Linked DNA regions of Homo sapiens: region 2 is linked to region 1. The links come from fine-mapping of genetic effects on gene expression. Tissue or cell type: whole blood. Region 1 holds a variant in brackets; the other region holds the start of a gene. All regions are shown on one strand. Distances are from middle to middle.

Region 1 (8,104 bases):
ATCTCCTGACCTCGTGACCCACCCGCCTCGGCCTCCCAAAGTGTTGGGATTACAGGTGTGAGCCACCGCACCCGGTCCTTTTTTTTTTTTTTTTTTTTTTTTTTTTTTTTAGCTCAACAGCTGTCATAGTGTTAATGATGTATTTTATGTGTTGCCCAAGACAATTCTTCTTCCAATGTGTCCCAGGGCAGCCAAAAGATTGGACACCCCTGGAACAGAGTATGGAAAGGGAAATTAGCAGCTTACGGTGGGTAACTCTGGTAGACAACGCCTTAACCAAGTGATCAAGGTTAACTTCACCAGTGAGCAATCAGGTAGATATCATGTGCCCCCTAATATTATGTGATGAGAAGGCCATTTCACCTCTGGGGTATTCTTTCCCCAAACCCCAACTGCAGTCTAATGATCAGAAAACATCAGACAAATCCAGATTGAGGGACATCCTACAAAATACTTGACCAGCCCACTTCATAAATGTCAAAGTCATAAAAAAACAAGGAGAGACAGAGAAATTGACATAGATTGAAAGTGACTATTATGATATAATAATTAAGTGCAACATTATATCCTGATTAAATCCTGGAACAGAAAAAGGACATTAGTGGAAAAAACTGGTGAAATCTGAAGAAAGTCGGGAGTTTAGTTAATACAACTGTGCCCATGTTAATTTTTGAGTTTTGATAAATGTATCATAATTAGTACGATATTAACATTGGGGGAAGGTGGATGAAGACTACGGGGGGTTCTCTGGATTTGCAACTCTTCTGTAAATCTAAAGTTAACTTTAGGGGGTATATGATGTCAACCTGATTTAGCTAAAGTTAACTTTAGATTTACAGAATAATTGCAAATCCAGAGAGAGGGAAGATTTAGGTTGGTGCAAAAGTAATTGTGGTTTTTGCCATTGAAAGTAATGGCAAAAACCACAGTTTCTTTTGCACCAACCTAATAAAATAAAAAGTTTAAAAGGAAAAAAATCTCTCAAATGAAGACGTAGGTCCACACAAGGACTTGTATGTGAATGTTCATTGCAACTTTACTCAAAATCATCCAAAACTGGAAGTAACCCAAATGTCCATCAACTGGTAAATGAATAAACAGACTGTGGTATATCCATTCAGGGGAATGCTACTATGCAATAAAAAGGAACAAACTATTGATACATCCAATAATATGGATGAATTTCTTTTTTTTTTTTTTTTACATTTTTTTTTTTTACATTTTTTTTTTAATTTATTTTTTTATTGATAATTCTTGGGTGTTTCTCACAGAGGGGGATTTGGCAGGGTCATGGGACAATAGTGGAGGGAAGGTCAGCAGATAAACAAGTGAACAAAGGTCTCTGGTTTTCCTAGGCAGAGGACCCTGCGGCCTTCCGCAGTGTTTGTGTCCCTGATTACTTGAGATTAGGGATTGGTGATGACTCTTAACGAGCATGCTGCCTTCAAGCATCTGTTTAACAAAGCACATCTTGCACCGCCCTTAATCCATTTAACCCTGAGTGGACACAGCACATGTTTCAGAGAGCACAGGGTTGGGGGTAAGGTCACAGATCAACAGGATCCCAAGGCAGAGGAATTTTTCTTAGTGCAGAACAAAATGAAAAGTCTCCCATGTCTACTTCTTTCTACACAGACACGGCAACCATCCGATTTCTCAATCTTTTCCCCACCTTTCCCGCCTTTCTATTCCACAAAGCCGCCATTGTCATCCTGGCCTGTTCTCAATGAGCTGTTGGGTACACCTCCCAGACGGGGTGGTGGCCGGGCAGAGGGGCTCCTCACTTCCCAGTAGGGGCGGCCGGGCAGAGGTGCCCCTCACCTCCCGGACGGGGCGGCTGGCCGGGCAGGGGGGCTGACCCCCCCCACCTCCCTCCCGGACGGGGAATATGGATGAATTTCAAAAACATTGTGTTGAGCAAAAGAAGTGAGACACAAGAGACTACATCTGTATGACTGCATCTATAGGAAACTTTAAGAAAGGCAAGACTTTAGTGCAAAAGCAGATCAGTGCTTGTTAGGAACAGGAGTGGGGAATGTGGGGGGTAGAGAGAAGTAATTGACAGCTAAAAGTCACAAGGGAAGTTCTAGGGGTGATGAAATGTTCTGTATCTTGATGGGGCAGTGGTTACATGACTACAGTGTGTGTATATATATGTTAAAACTCATCAAGCTGTACACTTAAAGTGAGTTCTATTCTATGTTAGCTATATCACAATATGGCCAGGTGTGGTGGCTCATGCCTGTAATCCCAGCATTTTGGGAGGCCAAAGTGGGCAGATCACTCGAGGTCAGGAGCTTGAAAACAGCCTGGCCGACATGGTGAAACCCCATCTCTACTAAAAATACATAAATTAGCCAAGTGTGGTGGTGTGTGCCTATAATCCTGGCTACTTGGGAGGCTGAGGCAGGAGAATCGCTTGAACCCAGGAGGCGGAGGTTACAGTGAGCTGAGATTGCACAACTGCACTCCAGCCTGGATGACAAAACAAGATTCTGTCTCAAAAAAAAATTATATATATACATATACACACACATATATATATTATATATCACAGTAAAGCTGATTTTTAAAAAATCTCTCAGCCCCTGCTATTGCTTTGTTTTTATCCTCCTGAGCCTCTCTATAGCTATGGCACTTGAATTTCCTTCTTCCTCTTGGTGGCTTTTGTTCTGTCTTATTTCCTGATGCCCTTTCTAGGTCCCTAAACATTAGTGCAAAGAGGGCACCAGAGCAGAGGGGAACAATTCTCTCTACACTCAAGTGGAATCTCTGAGCTGAGGGACCCAGAGAGGTGGAGTAGCCAGCAGGGCCCTGATGACCCGCACCTGAACTCCCACGGGTCTGACGGCTGCTGTCACAAGAGCCTGGGGCCGCTGGTCTGAGTGTGCTGGCGATCCAGCCAGGCTCAGGACGCTGAGGAGGAGGTAACCGAGACCAGGCTTCTCCCTTGTCAACAGGCAGACAGATCCCGGGGATCTTGTTAAAACACAGAGGCTGATTCAGCAAGCTGGGCGGGGGCTGCAGATTCTGCATTTCTAATAAGCTACGGAGTGATACGGTGCTGAGGGTTGGAGGCCCACACTCTGAGCTCAAAACGGAGACCACAG[G/A]GATATGCAATGTGTGCAGAGAAGGGGGAGGATGGCACAGGCTGCAGCAGTGGGGCGGGTGCTTGGCTACACTTGGAAAGGAAGTTCTCACAGTGTCTACAGCAGGAACCCAGACAGTTTCTGAGCCATCCTGGGGCTACTACAGGGACTGGGAAAATTGCACCAGTTGGGGAACAAAAAGTAAACAATGGTCTTATTACAATTAGTATGGTCTTTATTGCATGTAGGTGACAGGCCCTTAAAGAAGGTTTCATCCAGACATTCTCCCAGATCCCTCTCCATACTCTCTCAAGAAAGTCACCTGGGCCAGGCGCAGTGGCTGACTCCTGTAATTGCAACACTTTGGGAGGCCGAGGCAGGCGAATCACCTGAGGTCAGGAGTTTGAGACCAGCCTGGCCAACATGGCGAAACCTCGTCTCTACTAAAAATACAAAAATTAGCCAGGCGTGGTGGTGGGTGCCTGTGATCCCAGCTACTTGGGAGGCTGAGGCAGGAGAATCGCTTGAACCTGGGAGGTGGAGGCAGGAGAATCGCTTGAACCTGGGAGGCAGAGGTTGCAGTGAGCCGAGATAGTGCCACTGCACTCCAGCCTGGGCAACAGAACAAGACTCCGTCTCAAAAAAAAAAGCGGCCAGGCACGGTGGTTCACACCTGTAATCCCAGCACTTTGGGAGGCTGAGGTGGGCGGATCACGAGGTCAGGAGATCGAGACCCTCCTGGCTAACACGGTGAAACCCCGTCTCTACTAAAACTACAAAAAAATTTAGCTGGGCGTGGTGGTGGGCACCAGTAGTCCCAGCTACTCGGGAGGCTGAGGCAGGAGAATGGCCAGAACCTGGGAGGCAGAGCTTGCAGTGAGCCGAGATCATGCCACTGCACTCCAGCCTGGGCGGCAGAGTGAGACTCCATCTCAAAAAAAAAAAAAAAAAAAGGAAAGAAAGCCACCTGTTCATTCCTGTGGCTTCACCACGGCTTCCCCAAGGGACTCCCAAATCTGTCCCTGATGCTGCTCCTGCACGCCCCCAGTGTTGCTAACAGCTGGTAGCTATCTCCAGCTCCTTAATTGAGCCTGAAACTCACCATGTCTCAAACATGCCTGCTTCCTCCTGTACTATCTTCATCAGCTGGTGGTTGTACTAGACACTTCTACGACTCTAAATAACCCTTCCATAGCATTGCCTGACAACCAAGACCAAGAGATAGTCACCCCTTGTCACACTCTCTAGTTTCTTTTATAATGGTTATCTCAGCTGCAATTAATTAGGGACAGGATTATTTGTGAATATCCATCTCTCTCACAGGACAATAAAAGGGCAGAGGCCCTCTCTGCTCTGTGGTCTGCTTCCCACTCTGCCCCAGCACCAAGCCGAGAGGCTGGCATGAAATACAAGACATGCAATTACATCGTAAGTCTCCAACTCAATTCTGACACATTAGGAGTCTCTAAACACAAACATTAGGGACCATGTCAGTTTCTGAAATGCTCTTGTTTACTGACATTTAATCATTTTCCCAGGGACGGCTTTCTACAAGATCAGGCTGACCTCTTTGGGGGTTTTATTCTTAGATGATGAAGATATTTTGACACAAGGCCCAAAGGCAACATGCACCTGGTTGTGGCTGGCAGGTGGCTTTGCTTTTTAGATACAGAGCTTGGAGCTTGCCCTGAGTGACAGTAACTTGTAAAGCAAATCTGTTTGGGGCAGAGGCAAAGCAGATCTCATTAGACTCCTAAAGGGACATGTTAGTATAGCTAGAAAGCAATACCTGGTTCCAAAATTCAGAATTTTGCGAGAGCCACTCAATCACCAAGCAAGGCCACTTCAAAAGCCTATGACAACATCCATTAATACTCCAGTCACTCTGGATCAGAATAAAAATGAAAAAGGTGCAAATGAAACTTCTCTCACTGGTCCACACCACCCTCCCTGAACCTTGTATCTGAAAAGATATTTTAGTTCAGAAAAAAAAAGTCTCCAGCGGGGCACAGTGGCTCATGCCTGTAATCCCAACACATTGGGAGGCTGAGGCGGGTGGATCACCTGAGGTCAGGAGTTCGAGACCAGCCTGGCCAACATGGTGAAACCCCATCTCTACTAAAAACACACACACACAAAAAATAGCCAAGAATGGTGGTGCACACCTGTAATCCCAGCTACTTGGGAGGCTGAGGCAGGAGAATCACTTGAACCTGAGAGTGAGCCGAGATCATGTCACTGCACTCCAGCCTGGGTGACAGAGCAAGATTCATCTCAAAAAAAAAAAAAAAAAAAAAAATCTCCTAACTGGCTCAGGTCCCTTTTCAGCTAAATTGGGAAGAAAAGCAGGTGAAGGAAACAAATGGTCCTTAACACAAGAATGCCCAGTTATTATTTTGCAAAAACAGTCAAAGCCCTGTTAATAGCAGGAACATAGTCTTCTCTTAAGGAGCTAGATTGCTTGCTGGATTTGGGGGGGAAGAAAATTAATACTCACTACTGAGGTATTCCAACAGTTGGAATGAAGTAGTTGAAAGAGAGGATCAAGGCAATCATCATCTCCCAGCCCAACCTCCTGCCAAGCACCAGGGCCAAGCACTCCTCCTGCGACTCCCAGAGGGTCCTGTTCAAACCACAGGTGCAGAAGGTGCAGACATCTGACTCCTATTTCCTCTGTGTCCAAGAGTGGGGGTTTTTCAAGCAAAAGGGCTAACAACACTGAATTCGGAAGGCAAGAGGGGTACTTTGAAGTGGGACTCTTAGAGGACTGCTGAACTTACTGTGTTAAAAGGGATGAGTTAGAAAAAGGCCAACACCTGGCCCTTTCTCTTTGCTGTTTTGGGTCGTGTGGGAGGGCCCTGCATGAATCCTTTACTAGGCACTGGTTGCTGTGAGTTTCAGCTACTAATGGGTCCCATCTGCCCCCTTGTTTGTAAATTGCGTTTGAACAAATGGGAACCTCTCCACCTGTGGGAGGCCCACAACCAATCAATGGCTGACATTGAGAGGGGTACAAAAGGCTGACTTTGGCCAGCCCAGTGGCTCACACCTGTAAATTCCAGTGCTTTGGGAGGTCAAGACAGTAGGATCAATTGAGGCCAGGAGTTTGAGACCAGACTGGACAACATCGTGAGACGCGCCCCCCCCCACCCCCCCACCCCACCATCTCTACAGAAACTTTAAAAATTAGTTATGCATTTGGGCGTGTGCCTGTAGTCCCAGCTACTCAGGAGGCTAAGGTAGGGGGATCGCTGGAGCCCAGAAGTTCAAGGCTGCAGTGAACTATGATGGCACCACTGCACTCTAGCCTGGGTGACAGAGGGAGACTCTGTCTCTAAAATAAATAAATAAATAAATAAATAAAGGCCGACCTTGCCTGACGGGGGGGAAACCAGCTCTGTGATGCAAGTCATGGACTCCCAAGACACCTGAAGTTTAGATTTACCCCCGCCCTACCATCCTCCCAGCCCTCTAGCCCCCATCCCATACATCATCTCCATGAGAATCCCTTGACTTCTAGGGAAACCTGACAAAAGGCACAAGGAGCTAAGCTTCCACGAAGTTTTGGGAGTATTTGGTTGATCCCAGGAAGAGAATTTCCAGTTCAAGGTCTCCAGTGCTTCCCAAGGGGAACTAGGCACAGAGGACTCAGAACCCAGCCCAGCTAAAGCCCCGAACATCAGAGAGGAGCCTCATTTCCCTATTCCACCTTATACAGATTGGAGAAAGGCTATCCAGTGCAGGGGCTCTGTCATTCGTGGGTGACAGCTCCTGGATCCTATGAAGATCCTACCACAAAAAAGCTGATTTTGCTAGTTCCTGGGCACCCTGAACCCAAGTTGGGGACAATTCAACATTGGCATGTGAAATCTCCCGGAGCACTTAAAAGGCAAAAAGAGTTATGTCTGCCACCAAGTCTTTTTCAAGCAGCTGCTTATGGGATTCCACATCGGTGCTACCATCACGGCACAGACTGTATTTCCTTAGTGCATTTCAAGACTTTCCTCTGCACTGGCTCATAAGGAAACCCTCTCCCAACACACATTCTATTACATTCCCTTCGTCCCCTTTCTCATTTTCCTCTGCTCCTCCTGGGGCTTCCCACAATTACCTCCCCAAATCTTCACCTTAGAGGTGGCCTCTGGGGACCGATCACTCAAAGACAGGTGTATGTTCAACAACATACACTCTTAAAATCCCGATTTCACAGTGAACAGACACAGAATGCAACACACACCTCTGTGATCTAACTAGCCATCATTTGCTAGCCAAAGTGCTTGATTCTGGGGCACAGTCAATTAAAAGTGAGAGTTGTGGCCGGGTGTGGTGGCTCACGCCTGTAATCCCAGCACTTTGGGAGACCAAGGCGGGTGGATCACCTGAGGTCAGGAGTTTGAGACCTGCCTGGCCAACATAGTGAAACCCCATCTCTAATAAAATTCAAAAATCAATCAGGCCTGGTGGTGCATGCCTGTAGTCCCAGCTACTCAGGAGGCTGAGACAGGAGAATTGCTTGGACCCGAGAGGCAGACATTGCGGTGAGAGGAGATTGCACCACTGCACTCCAGCCTGGGTGACAGAGTGAGACTCTGTCTCAAAAAAAAAAAAAGTGAGAGAGTTGTAAAATCGTGGTCCAAAACACCCTACGAACTTTATTAAATTCATAACGCTGTGCTTTTTTTGGTGCAATTTTAAATTAGCTTTTTAAATTAGCTTCCATCAATCTTCTCCTGGTCCACTGTATTTCAGATGTTGAACTCAGGACAGTGTTGAAAGATTTTTACGGGGTGAGTTCCACAGTTCCAATTCCAATTTACCATTCTTCCTTTTGTGACTTCCTCTTAGAGTTCGCCAGCCTATGGGTCCTTGAGGACTGAAAACCAATGAATTAATCAAAGGAAAAATGTTCTGTTTCCTCCATTTAGAAATTCATTGAAATATAGATGAAGTCCATCATGAACAGCAGGACGTTCTGAGAAAGCCATCAGCCTAAATGTCTTTATGAATAACTATTA
Region 2 (8,104 bases), 92 kb after region 1:
TCAGTGGAAAAGGGGATGGTGGAGACTGTGGAATTTACTATCAGTTCTGACTCTAGGGGTTTAACATCTGGCAAACTAGGCCTCATTTCTTCATCCATCATCAGATTTAGCTAATCTGAATCCTACTAATTGGAAACATCTATTAATCTAAATTGCCCTCCTGCTTCTCTGACAAAGCCGAAAATGACTTCAGAATATGAACCTTACAGAAACTGAATCATACTTTGGCCAAAATGAATTATACATTAAAGAATTTATAATTATATTACAGGTGGAGTCTGATGAGTCTGATTTTGTTGGCCAATTAAGAAAGGAAGGGCTGGCTGGGCGCAGTGGCTCATGCCTGTAATCCCAGCACTTTGGGAGGCTGAGGCAGGCGGATTGCCTGAGGTCAGGCATTCAAGACCAGCCTGGCCAACATGGTGAAACCCCGTCTCTACTAAAAATACAAAAATTAGCCAGACGTGGTGGCAGGCACCTGTAATCTCAGCTACTCAGGAGGCTGAGGCAGGAGAATTGCTTGAATCCAGGTGGCGGAGGTTGCAGTGAGCCGAGATCTCGCCATTGCGCCCCACCCTGGGCAACATAACAAGGCTCCATCTCAAAAAAAAAAAAAAGAAAAGAAAAGACAAAAAAAAGGAAGGAAGGAAGGAAGGGCCTCCACCTATATCATTCAAATGTAATTACCCCACGGTATACCTGTGGGTATTTCGGTACAAAAACAAAAGTGGGAAAAGCATCTGCCTGAGTGTTTCAGAAAGCCTGAAAAGGGAACCAACTAGGATAAAGAGATTTTGTAGTTAGTAGAGAAGATTCTAGAACTGGTTCTTTTCTTGATTATCACCTGCAATTTTCTGTGTATTTCATGCAGTCCCAACATTGCTCCTAGAATCCAAACTCATATCAAAAAACAAGGTCATTAGGATATGGAGTAGAGGGATCCATGCCTCCCAGCTGAATTACTCTAGCTCAACTGCCCACAAGGTGGGACAATCTCCACCTTTTCTGGAAAGACTCCTATTAACCAGTCCCATTCATTTGCCCTTCTCTTTCTCCACAAAGCTATGTCCTGCTTCTCCACTTACAAGGTCATATGCAACTCGAATCTCTGTCTACCCACCTGGCATCCACCCTTCCAGACCCTGCTTAAATGCTACCTCCTCAAATGCCAACGAACTCCAAAACTCGGTTGTTCATTCTGGTGGAAGCTGATCTCTCCCTCCTTGGCAGCCTGTGTCCCCGTGATGCGTTTTGTAAACTTGCAGCTACTTTGATCTTGTCTTGGATTGTACTTGGGTCTTACCTTAACCCTTGGTCCAGATGGCAAATACGGACAGCCCCTGTGAGCTCAGCCATGTTCTCAGTTATGCATCTTTTTCTCTCCCAAAGCACATCGCCCCTCTCACCAAGTAGTGGCTCAAAAACATATCTGATAGTTTCGAGGCACCAGATTTAAATATAAAGACGGTCTGGGTGGCTGATTTCATGTGTGTTGCCACACCAAACCACACTAGTGAGTTTCACGTTGCCTTGCTTGGCTTTGGGCTCCCTCGCTGTCCCTGGACAGAGACGCTCAGCAGTCGTGGAATCACCACAAAGGTGGGGAGGAAGAAGGGGAAGAAAGGGAAGCCGGGGCCGGAATAATCCTATCTGAGTCACCACTTCCTGAATACTGGAGCTCGCGGCTTCGCAGGATCGGGAGAAGGACAGCAGAGCCGCGCTTGGAGGACGAGCCCCCGCCCCGCGCCCGGCGCCCCCAGCCGGCAGCCGCGGCCCCGGCACCACGTGCTGGAGCGCCCTCCTGTGGCCGCGTCGCAGCCCCCGCCGCTCCCGGCTCGCGCGCCGCTCCCCGCGGCGGAAGAAACAAGAGACGCAGAAAGTTTCCGAGCCAGGCGGTTTGCGAAAGGACACAGCCGGGTCCCGAGCCTCGAAGGGCGGACGTGCCGGGAGCTGCGCCCAAGCCCGCGGCGACGGCGAGAAGTCGGGCCCCGCAGGGACCTCCCCTAAGGGCTCAGAGGTTCCTCCCGCGGGGCTCGGGGCGTGCAGATCCCGAGGGCGCAGGGCTCCTCCTCGCACCCCTACCTGACCGCAGAGGGCGGGGAGGGGAGGCTGGGCCCACGGCCAGGACGGGATGCCCCCCAAACCCCAGCTACAGCGCGCGCCGGGGGCTCTTGGGTTTGGTTTATTCATTTTCTTATTTGGAGGGAGGGGGCGCACCCACTCCCTTTGGCTCATAGTGATCCCCAACAGTCTGGATTCTGGGCGCCCCCGAAAAGCCCACCCGGAGTCCGCCGCCCCACCCAGCGCCGCCCTCCCCCGCTGGGGTGACAAGTGGAAGCCGCAAATCCCCTCCCTCCTCTCCTCCAGGCTTCGGGTTTGCGGGGTAACGTCCACCTGGGTTTCCTGCCGCTCGCCCGGGGCTCGCCGGCCAGGAGGCGGCGGTAGCGGCGGGGGTCCCGGAGCGGGCGAGGCCGGGCCGGGCGCGGCGCTTACCTCGTCTACGGTGAGCGGCATGCAGATCCGGTACTCTTTCAGCAGCATGGTCCTGCCGGCCGCGGACCCCCGGGGCGGGAAGCGGGGGGCGCCCCCAAGACCAGCAAGGCTGCTGCCCAGGCGCAGGGCAGGGCGCCCGGAGCCCGGCGCTCGGAGCCGGAGGGCGAAGCAGCCCCCGCGGCGCGCTCAGCTCCTGGCTTCCTCCTCTCCGCCCCAGAGCATGTCAGGGTTTGGGTCTGGGTGTTCGCAGCTCCCCCGCCTCCTCCCTCGCCGAGGCCGGTCCTCCCGGAACGCGGTGTTGCAAAGTCAGGGAGGCAGGGAGGGAGACCCGCTGGGGACGACTCTGCTCGGCTGCCCAGGGTGGTAGGAGCGGCCGCCAGATCAGGACATGCCCGGCAGCGAGCGAGGGAGGAAAAAAGAGAGATTTCCAAAAATTAAAACGAATGCACAAAAGTCACCCGCTCGATCCGCCTCCGAAAGCAGACGGGAACCTGGCGACCCCCCTCCTCCGGCGGGTCTGCCCGATGCTAATGTCACCAGGAACACATTGCAGCCGGAGCCGGAGATGCTGACTTTCCAGACAAAGGCTCGATCGGCTTCTCTCCGCGGGCGGTAAACAAGATTTCCTGCTCTTTTTAGGGCCGGTCCCCGCGCCGCTCCGGGGCTCGGCTCGGGGAGAAAAGGGAAGCCGCCGCCGCCGCCGCCGCTCGGCTCTGCCCGGCTGGGGCCCCGGGCGCCTCCAACCTCGGCTCGCGGCTGCCAGGGGCGGGCGGGAGGAAGCTGGCGCCTTCCGCGCGCGTCCCCTCCCCCGAGTCCCTCGGCTCCCCGGGCGCCGTGCGTGCCCGCGAGTTTGCAGCCACCTCGCCGGGGCCGGAGCGTCCGCGCCGATGCAGTGTGCCTGGGGCCGGGAGGTGGGTGCGGGAGGAGCGAGCGCGAGCGAGGCTGACATCAGCAGCGGCCGCGGCGGGGAGGGTAGCCCCATCCGGCCAATGGGGAAATGGCAAAGAATGTGGAGGATTTAAACAAAACAGCATGTCTCTGCCAGACGGCGGGGCTGCTCCGGAGCGGAGCCCGGCCGGCGCTGGGGAGGCTCGGGCAGAGGGGCTTTCCTCGGCTCCTTTGCCCTTTGAATCCGCTCTCCATTGTGCCCTGAGTGCTGCCGTGCTCCATCCAGCCCCTCTGGGAAGTTTCTGGTCCCCTGACCCTAGGGACAAGTCACCAATGCCCACCACCTATGTGTGGTCCAGTAAGCAAGTCTGGGGCTGGAGAGGCAATGGGTGGGATTTGGGAACAAACCCTTGCCTGGTTTCAGAGGAGAGATCCTGGAAAACTGGGAAGTGCAGCCGTGTGAATGGAAATGAAGTACAAACGGGGAGGGAACAACCAGAGAGAACATGAACCCCACGTAGCCTGTTACCTCGCCTGGCCCGGCTCTGCAATCTTTCTGCAGATTGTGCAGGCTCCGCGCAGCAGAAAGAAAGAGTAGGTTTTCGTATCCGCACTCCTAAGTTCAAAAAGTCACAGTGAAATGTCAATGAAAATGCCTGGAGTGTTGCTATTTGATCCATATTAAACAGATCTCTCATTTTAACCACAAGAAGCACATTCTTCAGTTACTCAGGAAGCAGCATGGAACTGCTGAAGTCTGTTTTTCATTTGTCTGGTATTTTTCAGCTTGTTTTTATGAAAAGTTGCCGGATGAAAAATGCATCAGTTGCCTGTATGAGAATAACCTGTAAGCGTTATCTTTTCTCCGAAAAATCTTCACGCTCTGAAGTCCTGAAGCTAGAGCTTAGATGGCGATGCAGATGCCTCAATACAGTATTTTGAATTGTGTTTAATTAATAAGTAATTAACCAATATGACGATGATGGGCTTGTGGCAAAAGTCATCCAGAGGGCTGGAGAGAATTTATAACTGTTAACTGATACAAACCCTCCTAGGAAAATGATACCCTATATCCAGCTTATATTTTAGTGGAAACTATTTTCCAGATAAATGCTTTCCAGAGTTGGCTCAGAAATATTCACAGCAACTAATTAAAGCTAAACCAAATTCCTCGAGGTGGAAAATCTAAATCTGACACTGCAGTGTTGAATAATAACACATTGGAAGGCTGTGATATGGAAAGAAACTCAAGCTGTTTTTCCTTTTTTTTTTTTTTTTTTTGCTTCTTACTTGAAAACAAATGGAAGACCTAATAATCTTCCCAGAGGCAGGAAGGCAAGGGATTGGCTAGCCACACATGCGCATGCACTTGGGACATCGGGATGTGTAGGCTCAGTTCCTGGCTTCCTGGACATTTCCTGACACTGATTCTGGAAGGAAGTATTCTACTGACGGGTGACACTGTTGAGGAGCTACTTCTCTGAATTTCCCGAACTGTAAATTGTCACATATATGCTTCCTCCATCATCCGTCTTGTTGCTGTTATTGGTTTGTGATGGAGTTTCGCTCTTGTTGCCCAGGCTGGAGTGCAATGGCATGATCTCGGCTCACTGCAACCTCCACCTCCCGGGTTCAAGCAAGTCTTCTGCCTCAGCCTCTGGAGTAGCTGGGATTACAGGCACCGGCCACCACGCCTGGCTAATTTTGTATTTTTAGTAGAGATGGAGTTTCACCATGTTGGTCAGGCTGGTCTCAAACTCCTGAGCTCAGGTGATGGCCTCGGCCTCCCAAAGTGCTGGGATTACAGGTGTGAGCCACCGCGCCCAGCCCACCCCTCCTGTTGTAAGGTGACTTCTCCATTGGATTCTCATTTTCTTTTCATTCATTGCATCCGCAAACCTGGTCATATTAATCTTGTGCAAGTACAGCTCTCATCCTGCCACCTTCAAACCTTTTAGTGATTCCTGGCTGGGCTCGGTGGCTCACCCCTGTAATCCCAGCACTTTGGGAGGGGAGGTGGGCCGATCGCATGAGCCCAGGAGTTCAAGACCAGCCTGGGAAACATGCTGAAACCCTGTCTCTAAAATTTAAAAATATATAAAAACCTTTTAGGGCTTCTCTATGGCCTACTGAGCAAGTCAAAATGCTTTGGTAGGAGGTTCAAGGCTCTGGATCTACCTTTCCCACATTAGTCCATTACCCTTCCCAGCCCAACTCCAGCCAAATGAGACGAGTCAGTTGGCTGCAAAAGCCCCTCCTCCCCGGCCACCTTTCTAGCTCAACCCTTCTGCTGTTCAACCCGTTGCCTTCACAGAGAATCCCTCTCCCCAATTCAATCCCCATGACACCATTTTAAAGCCAGGCCTTGGCAATCTGCGCTTCAGACAGTGGTTCTGATAGCAGTGAGCTGGAGGGGCTAGCAGAGGCGGGAGGGGCTGGTGCAGGGCATAGGGAGGGCATATTCATTCATAAGTCATGCACACTGAGGGCGGGGCGCGCCATCTACTGGCCAAGCACTGTGGTTTTAAGTCCTGTCCTCAGCAAGTGTCTGGCAAGAATTGTATCTTTGTTTCTTCTCAACCAATGAAGTCGCAATATCTACTTACGAAGAGCCTTGAAGCTGTTGCTATCATCATTATGGACAGTCATGATGTTCCATTAACAATGTACAATCTGCCGTGGCTGATCATCACATTTTTTTAAATGGGGGTGGGACACAAAAGGCAAAAAGAGGAACAAAACAGTAAAGTTACCAGAGAGGAATGATAAGACAAAGAGGAAAAGAATATGAGGCTGTGCATGTCTGTGACAGCATCTGTTCTCAGATAAGTGACAGTCTCTGAAAGCAGGGGTTCTCAAAACGCAGGAGGGGGTATGGCACACCAAGATAATCTAAGAAGACTGTCAACCTATTCTCTTCGAGGCATTCTGATGATCTCTTTAATCCTCCATGTCTGTGTGAAAAAACTAATAAGGTCTTGACCCACCTCTGTAAACAGCCTCTGAAAGAAAAGTGTACTAACAGGAATTTCTGACGATTAAAAAATGAAGGCCGGGCATGGTGGCTCACGCCTGTAATCCCAACACTTTGGGAGGCCGAAGTGGGCGAATCACTTGAGATCAGAAGTTCGAGACCACCCTCGCCAATATGGTGAAACCCCGTCTCTACTAAAAATACAAAAAGTAGCTAGGCGTGGTGGCTCGCGCCTGTAGTCCCAGCTACTTGGGAGGCTGAGGCAGGAGAATTGCTTGAATCTGGGAGGCGGAGGTTGCAGTGAGCCGAAATCATGCCACTGCACTCCAGCCTGGGTGACAGAACAAGACTCCATCTCAAAAAAAAAAAAAAAAGATTTGTCCCTTCTCTATATATATTTATTCAAATATATATATATATATATATATATATATATATATATATATATCTGTGTGGATTTGTGCTTATTTATTCTATACTTCAAGTTATAATCAACATTATGTTATTTATTTTGCTGCTCAGACAGTTCCAGCATTGGCTGTTGGGAGCTCTTTCTGGTTGGCTCCTATGTGCTTTTGACATGGCCTCTTTTTGTTTTTTGTTTTTTGGTTTTTTTTTTTTTGAGCCGGAGTCTTGCTCTGTCACCCAGGCTAGAGTGCAATGGCTTGATCTCAGCTCACTGCAACCTACGCCTCCCAGGTTTATGCGATTCTCCTGCCTCAGCCTCCCAAGTAGCTGGGATTACAGGCATCCGCCACCACGCCCGGCTAATTATTTGTATTTTTAGTAGAGACGGGGTTTCACCGTGTTGGCCAGCTGGTCGCGAACTCCTGACCTCAGGTGATCCACCCGCCTCGGCCTCCCAGAGTGCTGGGATTACAGGCGTGACCCACGGTGCCCGGCCAACATGGCCTCTTTTTTATAACATTTTAAAAATCAAATGTTATTCTTGCATTTTTTTTCTTTTTTTTTTTTTTGAGACAGGGTCTCACTCTGTCACCCAGGCTTCTGTGGAGCAGCATGATATCAGCTCACTGCAACCTCCACCTCCCAGGTTCAAGTGATCTTCTGGCCTCAGCCTCCCAAGTAGCCGGGACTACAGGCACATGCCACCATGCCAGGCAATTTTTGTATTTCTTTTGTAGAGATGGCATTCTGCCATGTTATCCAGGCTGGTCTGAAACTTTTGAGCTCAAGCGATCCAACTACCTTGGCCTCCCAAAGTGCTGGGTATAGTGTGAACCACTGTGCCCAGCCTACAATTAATTTTTGTTTTATTAAATATTACTTGCTTAATTCCAACAAAGGCTAAGTGTTTGTGTGTGTGTTTGTGTTTAAATACCTGTATATTTGATCTTGTTTGGTTACTAAGCTAATGTTAAATTCTTTCTTAATGACACAGAGGAAGTCCCAAGGCAATTCTTATGTATAGACCCACCCATCTATCAGGCCTCTGTTAAATATAGACAATGTCTTTGATGTGGAATTGCTTGTATTTTTGCAGTAAATGCCCATAAAATAAAAGTGAATTGACAATGATGTGTTACAAATTGCTTCACATAGAAAAAAAACTGGAGGTTCTGTGGCCAAAGGTATAGTTTCTTTTTTAAATAAGTAAGATAGCAATAAATTGGCCAGTGCGGTGGCTCACACCTGTAATCCCAGCACTTTGGGAGGCCAAGGCAGGCAGATCACTTGAGGTCAGGAGTTCGAGACCAGCCTGGTCAACACGGTGAAACACCGTCTCTA

The links. PIP is the estimated chance that this variant, and not a neighbour inherited with it, causes the effect.
Region 2: PITPNC1 starts here. The variant in region 1 is fine-mapped to the expression of PITPNC1 in whole blood (TOPMed, PIP above 0.99).

What each region holds. Positions count from the first base shown.
Region 1 is chr17:67,464,339-67,472,442 of GRCh38, reverse strand. All of the region lies in intron 1 of PITPNC1 (phosphatidylinositol transfer protein cytoplasmic 1), which reads right to left. It overlaps MIR548D2 (microRNA 548d-2), which reads left to right and starts at 858; the gene lies at 858-954. It overlaps MIR548AA2 (microRNA 548aa-2), which reads right to left and starts at 954; the gene lies at 858-954. The variant G/A (reference allele first, on the strand shown) is at 3,111.
Region 2 is chr17:67,372,592-67,380,695 of GRCh38, reverse strand. PITPNC1 (phosphatidylinositol transfer protein cytoplasmic 1) reads right to left here and starts at 3,415. Exons shown (of 9, transcript NM_012417.4): 1 at 2,494-3,415. The coding sequence starts at 2,541. RefSeq lists silencers at 1,561-1,920, 2,031-2,330, 2,341-2,760, 3,111-3,360, 3,411-3,530 and 1 more and an enhancer at 2,916-3,609.